3 separate regions of the Homo sapiens genome follow, and regions 1 and 3 are each linked to region 2. The links come from fine-mapping of genetic effects on gene expression. A gene starts in region 2. Each other region holds a variant in brackets. All regions are shown on one strand. Distances are between the middles of the regions.

Evidence for each region.
Region 1: its variant is fine-mapped to the expression of GLCE in blood mononuclear cells (TOPMed, PIP above 0.99). The same link has a PIP of 0.9 or more in monocytes and whole blood.
Region 3: its variant is fine-mapped to the expression of GLCE in CD4 T cells (BLUEPRINT, PIP 0.95).

What each region holds. Positions count from the first base shown.
Region 1 is chr15:69,130,374-69,133,132 of GRCh38, forward strand. No RefSeq gene overlaps it. Among named protein-coding and RNA genes, the nearest start is that of GLCE, 29 kb to the right of the region's middle. The variant T/C (reference allele first, on the strand shown) is at 1,431.
Region 2 is chr15:69,159,522-69,162,280 of GRCh38, forward strand. GLCE (glucuronic acid epimerase) reads left to right here and starts at 1,114. Exons shown (of 5, transcript NM_015554.3): 1 at 1,114-1,236. It also overlaps the pseudogene LOC100421574. RefSeq lists an enhancer at 776-1,276 and silencers at 974-1,183, 1,384-1,493.
Region 3 is chr15:69,285,113-69,287,871 of GRCh38, forward strand. All of the region lies in intron 2 of PAQR5-DT (PAQR5 divergent transcript), which reads right to left. Among named protein-coding and RNA genes, the nearest start is that of PAQR5-DT, 12 kb to the right of the region's middle. The variant A/AACACAC (reference allele first, on the strand shown) is at 1,563.

The DNA of each region.
Region 1 (2,759 bases), 29 kb before region 2:
TTGAGATTTTGATCATCGGAATTTTCTTTACCCTTCCAGGCAAAGACAGCCCTCGATGGATTCCAATCCCAAATAACCCTGCTCCAGGCTCCAGGAAACTCATGCTGTTTGTCTTCCTTAGCCTTGGCTCTTGCTAACTCACTGCATGACTGTGGGCCAGTCCCCTAATCCCACTAACTCTTAGTTTCCCCAACTGTTAAACAAGGGAATTGAACAAAGTAAGTTAACTTTGTGTTTCTTAACGTTGACTATGGAAACCCTAGACATTTGGATAGCAGGCCACAGGGGAGCACCACCTACCCACCTCCTGGTGACAGCATACCTAGATTACAGATAAATTACCCAGGAAGGACACAATAGCCTGACAAACTCAACCCACAAACACGAGTGAGGAAATCCCTAATTTAAAGAAAACAGCATTGTTAGGAAGGTTTGTCCAGCATTTAATTTGTCTCTATCCTTATGACTTTGGAAAACTAGGTGAAAAAAGAATCCCTTTAAAAAATGGGCAGACAAGTTCAAGTGACATGTGCTCAGCTTACTGTGATGCATTAATCCATCCATTCATCCATTCTTTTCTCTTTTTTTCTTTCTTTTCTTTTTTGTTTTTTAACACTTGCTCTGTCACCTAGGCAAGAGTACAGTGTTGCGATCTTGGCTCACCACAACCTCCGCCTCCTGGGTTCAAGTGATTTTCCTGCCTCAGCCTCCTGAGTAGCTGGGATTATAGGCACCTGCCACCATGCCTTGCTAATTTTTGTATTTTTAGTAGAGACAGGGTTTTGCCATATTGACCAGGCTGGTCTTGAACTCCTGACCTCAGGTAATCCACCTGCCTCGGCCTCCCAAAGTGCTGGGATTACAGGCGTGAGACACCACACCTGGCCTCATCCATTCATTTATTTTATATTTCATCTTCCAAGAATTATTTGAGGCACAAGTAACAATGCTAAAAGCTATTGCCTTGCTGCTGTAGGACAGAGTTGAGAGAGAGAGAAGAGGCAGAGGAGGGGCAAAAGAAGAGGAAAGAGAAGCAAGAATAACTGACAAGTTGCTAAGATAAAAAAGAGAAAGAAGGAAAATACTGTCCCTAGCAAAGTTTCATTTACTAAGCAAACAACGCTTGCTATTTTTCTTTGGCTCTGTTCTCAAAAGGCCTCTGCTGGGCATTATCGATTGGACAACCGGGCCACAGTCCTCCTGCCAGGCAGAATTCATCAAGGCAGCACCAGCACTTATAGGAGATGGGTTTTTTGGCCCTGATGGAGCAGGAGCCCAGCAGGTTGCTTGCAGGAGCCAGTTGGGACCTAAGTGTGCCCCAGGGAAAGGGGAAACTGCAGTAAGATGAGAGACACTAGGGTGGAGGGCTTACAGAAGTTGAGATTCACTTCCTCTCTGGGACCAGGATACTGCAGCCCTGTGACCAGGCT[T/C]CCTGCTCCCTGAGCTGGCTCTACAGCCCTGCACACAGATTGTTGGAAGGTCTTTTGATCAGCCAGTCACTCGATTAACCAATAGAGCCATCTTTATTGAGCAGTTCTCAAGGTACCCTGGGGAGGTGCTTGAACAATGCCCTCAAGGCCTTTGCTAGGGAGAAAATGTCATCACACAGTTTAAAAAGAGCCACTCTTGAAAGTGAATCAGTAACTTTAAACATTGAAGGAAGGAAAGAGGAACAGGGTGTTACTATCTGTGGCGACTGACTCTATTAGGAGAGCCGACCCAGTGGTAGGAAGCTAAATTCAAGGCTCCTAAAATTAAACTTTTGAAAAGTGAACCCTTCTTCTTCATGAAAAACAGAAGGCAATCGGCAGTGCAAGGCCATGCCTGGGAGTGAACCCTGCAAAAGACGGAGGAGGTGTTGCTTTAAGATTTCTGAAGAGGGAAAGCCCCCCTCAGCAGGGGTCCACGGGGGCCACTCAGGGAGAGGCAGAATGGAAGAGAAGATGAAGGATAGGGGAAGGGGTGGGAAACAGTCTCAGAAGAGGCTATGGCATAAGCAAAGGCAAGACCAGAAGTATAAAGCGTAGTTGGGGCCCAGAGTCATGAACTAGTGTGACTGGAGCCAAGCCTGCCCCACATTTTGGGCCTGGGAAGAGTCAGAAGGGCCCTGTGTGCAGAACCATGGAAATGCTAATAGCTCATATTTGTATGGTGCTTAATCTGTATATACAGTGTATTAACGAATGTAATCCTCAGAATAGTTCCATGAGGCAGGTACCACTATTCTCCCCATTAGGCAGATAGGCAAACTGAGGTACAGAGAGACTTAAGTAACTAGCCCAAGGTCACCCAGCAAGTAAATGGTAGAACTGGAACGTGAACCCAGCAGTCTGCGTCGCAGGCCTTGTATCCTCAGCCACTAGGCTATCCTGTCTCCATCAGGATTATCAGGAAAGGGAGCCAGAGCATGAGGAAGGTGATGCTTGCTATTTGGGACTTGTTGCTTTGAGGTGGATGCATCTACCAGGCAATTGAGAGCAAGGGCTACCACAGAGGGTGGGGTGCTTGAGAATGCTATGATACCTGCCCATACTCTTCCTGTCCTTGGGTAGGGCAGAGAGGGCATTTTGTTTTGTTTGTCAGTGAGCTGGTCTCCAGGACAAGGTTAAATATATATTAAAATGTACACACACACACACACACACACACACACACAGAGTCGGCAGCATATCATCCATTCTCTCTTGGCTAATACACAGGCAGAAGTCTTTATGCTGAGCTGATCAATGCCCAGTCAGGGCATTCTTTTCATACACACA
Region 2 (2,759 bases):
GATGAATGAAGGTACAGGATAGGCATAATAATGAAGAGCCTGGATTTAAGGGTGAAGCCACTGGCTCACATTATAGAGGAAAGGCTAGGAAAGCCGAATTTTCTGGGGCCAGGTCCAGATTTAATATATTTAAGTATAACAGTCTTAATTCATTCCTTTCACCTTATTCAGTGCCCTGGGTGTGCCAAATACTACTGGGCACTGGGGTCTACAAAGGTACGACTTTTCATGTAATGTTGGAATTTGTTATGTTGGTAACTCGAGATTTGCATATATTTAACAGTCTTAATTCATTCCTTTCACATTATTCAGTGCCCTGGGTGTGCCAAATACTACTGGGCACTGGGGTCTATAAAGGTACGACTTTTCATTAATTTTGGAATTTGTTATGTTGGTAACTCGAGATTTGCTTTTCATTCTTCTGGAAGGCTGTATGTAGAAATAAATACAGTCATCAGACGAGTTCTTTGTCAGACCAGATGTCCTGGGTTGGGGTTTGGAAAACATGGGCATCTTAACAATGGTGCCCTGTTTGAGGTGGAGAGGGAGGAGAGGCCCAAATCGGGGAAAGGAATTAAATGGAGGTTTAGACGCGGGTAACCGGAGTGGGTGGGCCTTCAACCTGGAAGATGGGAATCCCCAGCGCACTTCGGGCAGCGCTGTAACCAAGGGTAACCGCACCTCGGTTTACACCGGTGTGAAGACCAGCCTCTTCCCCAAACCAGGTGTATCTACGGCGGCCTAGCAGGACCACACACAAGCCAAGCACGTCACGTCATTCGAGCTACCTTACCGCGAAAGTCCACTGCCTCCTACTACTTCTGGTCACTACTACCTTTGCTCACAGTTTATTAAGGAGGAGCGGAGAAGAAGAGGGGCGGAGAAGGGGCGGGGAGAATCACCTTTCCTTTTTTACAATTGGTCGTAGTAGACTCCGAGTCCTGCCGCCCGTCCTGCAGCCGACAGGCTGCCAGGACTGTCACTCGAGGAGCTGCCGCTACCGCCCCCCGCCGTGGCCCCGCCCCTTGCCGTGGCTGGGATCTCGCGGGAAGAGCTGCGGGCACGGCGGTGGCTCGGTCTCCCGGCTGCGCGCGGAGCGGGAGGGCTCTCCTCACACAAGCGCTTCCTTGCCGAGAGGCTGGAGCTGCGGCACCGCAGGCCTGAGCCACCCCTTCTCTGCTGTCTCCTTCTCTTCCTCAGGGCTCCCGTGTCTGCTCGCCCTCCGACGCTGCTCAGGTTAGAAAGCCCGGAGCGCGTCTCCGCTGAGGAGCGGTCGGGGAGCGGGGACACGGAGCAGCCGGAGCAGGCGGGCTCCTGACGGGGGCGGCTCTGGGGGCTGCGCGGCGCTGCCTGGTGGGCGCGAGGCTTGGCGGGGTTTGGGAGTCCGGGGGGCGAGGAGGCGGTGCAGTGGGATCCGGGCGCGGGCGCCCAAGGGCGGTGTAGCGGGTGCCGGAGCTCCCGAGGTGAGGGGGCAATGTATTAGGGATCCTGGGGGCTCTTCCGGCTTGGGGTAGGGGTGGGTGGCGGCACACGGGGTCCTAGGTCTTTGACGTCGAGGGAGATTTATCAGGGTCTTGAGCTTCTTGGAGGTGGTGTAGCGGGGTTCCGGGACAAGGGGTCTTTTTACCCGGGTCCCGAGCTCTTTGGGGCAGAGAATGCAGTTTAGCAAGGTTTACACCGGTGTAAACCTTGTCTCTGGAGGCAGATCATCGGGGTCTTGGGGGTTCTTTGAGCGGGCGTGGGCGTCCGTTTCGCATTGCTGGGATGAAGAAGCAGTGTGTCCGGGTTCTGGGGAGAGGGGTCTGTTCATCGGTGTCTCCGGGTGAGAGAGCGATGTATCCGTTCCGCTGGGGCCGGGGCCGCCTTGGGGGGTTGTTGGGGGCTGAGGGTGTGTAGCGGCGACCAGCGTCTGGCCGGGGTTTCTGCTTTGCCCGGAGCGGGGCGGTAACTTGGCATGGTCTCCAGTCTTTTGGGGGCGACGGGGCGAGTTAGCTGGCCCCCGGGCAGTCTCTCGGGGTGGGCGCGGCTCCGCAGGCGCTGGGTCCGCTGAGGGCGGGAGAGGGCTTTGGTGCTACCGCGCAGGCTGGGCAGCATCCTGAAACGTTTTTGTTCAGGTCTCCTTCTCTCTGGATGAGATTTACTCAATGCTTAGTTGGAGGATTGATCGGTGTTGTTGCCTAGTTGAAGAAGCAGTGCGTTTGTTCTGCAGTTTTCTTTTCTCTGCCCCGGGATCCCTGTGGGGGCGCGCTGGTCTCGCTGGAGCTCCGGGAGCTAGAGTGGCAGCACCTTAGGTGGGCGTTTGGTCTGCAGGTTCTTTAGGAGGCCGGTGTCCGCAGGTTGAGCGTGGATACAGCTCCTGAGCAACTGGAATCTGTTGAGGGTGGGGAAGACTGATTTTGGCTTGCTTTCCTAGGTGGTGGTCTGCTTTGCTCATCCTGCATGATTAGATCTGTTCTGAAGTCTTGCCTGAGTGAATGTTAGGCAGAGTCGGATAGTGCAGGGAAGCGTGTTCTGTCTGGCTTCTTTCTGTCCTTTGAAAAGCATTTGTAGAGAGGGATAACGTCAAATTCAGCCTCCAGAAAACAATGGAATTTGAAATCCCAAAGCTAGAACTCTGCAAAAACGTTTTCTGTGACCTGTAAGGATGGTTAATCGAGCTTTTTTAGAGAATTCTGCTTAACAGTTTCATTGTATTGTAAAAGTGTATTTAGCCTTGGATATTACAGAGGTTTTGGTAACTAGCGTAGGCGTAGGTGGGA
Region 3 (2,759 bases), 130 kb after region 2:
AGCCTGGGCAACATACAAGACCTTGTCTCTACAAAAAAAATGTAAAAATTTGCTGGGTGCGGTGGCGTGCCTATAGTTTCAGCTATTTGGGAGGCCAAGATAGGAGGATGGCTTGAGCCTGGGGAGTTGAGGCTGCAATGAACCAAGACTGCACCACTGCACTCCAGCCTGGGCAACAGGGCGAGACCCTGTCTAAAAAAAAAAAAAAAAAAAACAAAAAACAGGCCGGGCGCGGTGGCTCACGCCTGTAATCCCAGCACTTTGGGAGGCTGGGGCAGGTGGATCACGAGGTCAGGTGATTGAGGCCATCCTGGTTAACACGGTGAAACCTCGTCTCTACTAAAAATCCAAAAAAAAAAAAAAAAAAAAAAAAAAAATTAGCCGGGCGTGGTGGTGGGCGCCTGTAGTCCCAGCTACTTGGGAGGCTGAGGCAGGAGAATAGCGTGAACCTGGGAGGCGGAGCTTGCAGTGAGCCGAGATTGCACCACTGCACTCCAGCCTGGGCGACAGAGCAAGACTCCGTCTCAAAAAAAAAAAAAAAAAAAAAAAGGCCCAGGAGGAAGGGGTACAGGAGCTTCTCGGTAGCTGAACACGTGGGGTTTACGGAGAATGCTGCATCTGAGGAGGACATGAAAATTCTGTCCCCCTTCCCCATATCTCACCCTATGTGTCGCCTCATCGGTATCCTTTATAATATTCCTTATAATAAATCAGTAAACATAAGCAGTGTTCCCCTGAGCTCTGTAGAACCGCTCCAGCAAATTAATCAAACCCAGGGGGAGGGTAGTGGGGACCCTGATTTATACCTGCTTGGTCAGAAGCACAGGTAAAACAACCAGGGGCTTGCGGTTGGCGGCGGAAGTCGGGGGGCAGTCTTGTGAGACTGAGCCCTCAACCTCTGGGATCTGACGCGGTCTTTAGGTAGAGAGTGTCAGAACTGAATCGGAGGACACCCAGAGCCCTCAACCTCTGGGATCGGACGCGGTCTTTAGGTAGAGAGTGTCAGAACTGAATCGGAGGACACCCAGCTGGTGTCCACTGCAGAACTGATTGCTTGTTTGCTGGTGAGAGAAATCCTCACATATGTGGGCACAGAAGTCTTCTGTGTTGATTGTTGTGATGTGAGAGCAGATAAAAAACATTTTCAATTTGTGGCTTTTTTCCACTCACATATCTATATTCAAAACAAAAAAGAAAGGATCTCACATACCCACACCTTACACAAAAATGAACTCAAAATGGATTATAGTCCTAAGTGTAAAACATAAACCTATGAAACTTCTAGAAAATATAGGAGAAAATATGTGTGACCTTCAGATACTAAAGGAATAATCTATAAGAAAAAAATGATAAATGAGATTTTATCAATATTAAAAATGTTTGCTCTGAAAAAAAAGTGAAAATGAAAACACAAACCACAGACTGGCAGAAAATATTTACAAATCATATATTTGACAAAGGACATAAAAAGACTCAACAGTGAGAAAATAAGTACATTTTGCCAATTAAAAATAGGCAAAAGACTGAATAGATACTTCACCAAAGAAGAAATGAGAATGACA[A/AACACAC]ACACACACACACACACACACACACACACACACACACGCAAAGATGCTGAACATCATAGTCTAAGGGTAATATAAATTAAAACCACAACAAAATGATCTAAATACTCAAAAATAAGTGATTAGTTAAATAAATTAGGGTGTATTTGTGCAAAAGGTTATTATCCATCCCTTAAGAATTATGTTTTGCACTTTAAAATAACATGAAAAATAGTTTTGGAAAAATGTATTAAGTAAAAGAAAGAGAATTTAAAGATATACACAATATTAATCCAAACTTGAAGGAAAATTGTGTATATGTTACGTACATGTGTTCAACAAACACTGAAATACATTAAAATATAAACAGGCCTCATTTCTGGGTGTGGCAATTATAGAAATTTCATTTTTTTTCTTTCTATTTCTTAGACTTTTCCTAAATATTTTCCAACACACACATATTATTTTTATAAATTATTTAAGCGATGAGAGAAAAACATAGACATATATCTGAGCCCCCCCTCCAGTCATCATTCAGCCCTTCTTGTAAGAGATGCCACTGTGGAGACCCCCAGCAGTGGAAGTCATGTACCTCAGTTTTCCCTCTCAACAGCCTTTCCCAGAAGCCTCCTCTGGCTCTCAGCTCTTGGTGCTGCTGCCTTTCCTTCCAACGGGAACGCCTTCCTCCCCTGGCCGTCTCCTTCACTGACACTCCTGCTGAGTCCCTCTCCTGGGGTGGAGGTCCCTGGGGATCCTTTCCTTCCCCTTTTCCTTCCTGGCCCTCATTCTGTCCCTGTGGGATTTAATTTACTTCTGTGGCATCAGCAAGGGCACCCAAGACACCCACATCACTGTGTCTGGCCTAAACTGTTCTCATGGGCTCCAAGCCCATCCATGCCACAGATGTTTATTGGGTATCTATAGCCAGGCTCAGCTCCAGGGTCTGGGGACCCAGCAGGGGCAATCACAGCAGAGCCCCTGCTTTCAGGGACCATGCATTCTAACAGAGGAGTCAGGCAGTAGACATATCCACAAATCAACAAGCCCATTCATACTTCAGAACCTGCATTTTAGCAAGATTCTCCAGAACAGGTGAAGGCACATTAAAGTTTGAGGCCCACTGCCCTACACCAGTGGTTCCCAAAATGTGGTTCCCAAGCAGCGGCTCTCCTAGGAGTTTCTGAGAAGTGCAGCCTCTCAGCTCCAACCCAGACCTACTGA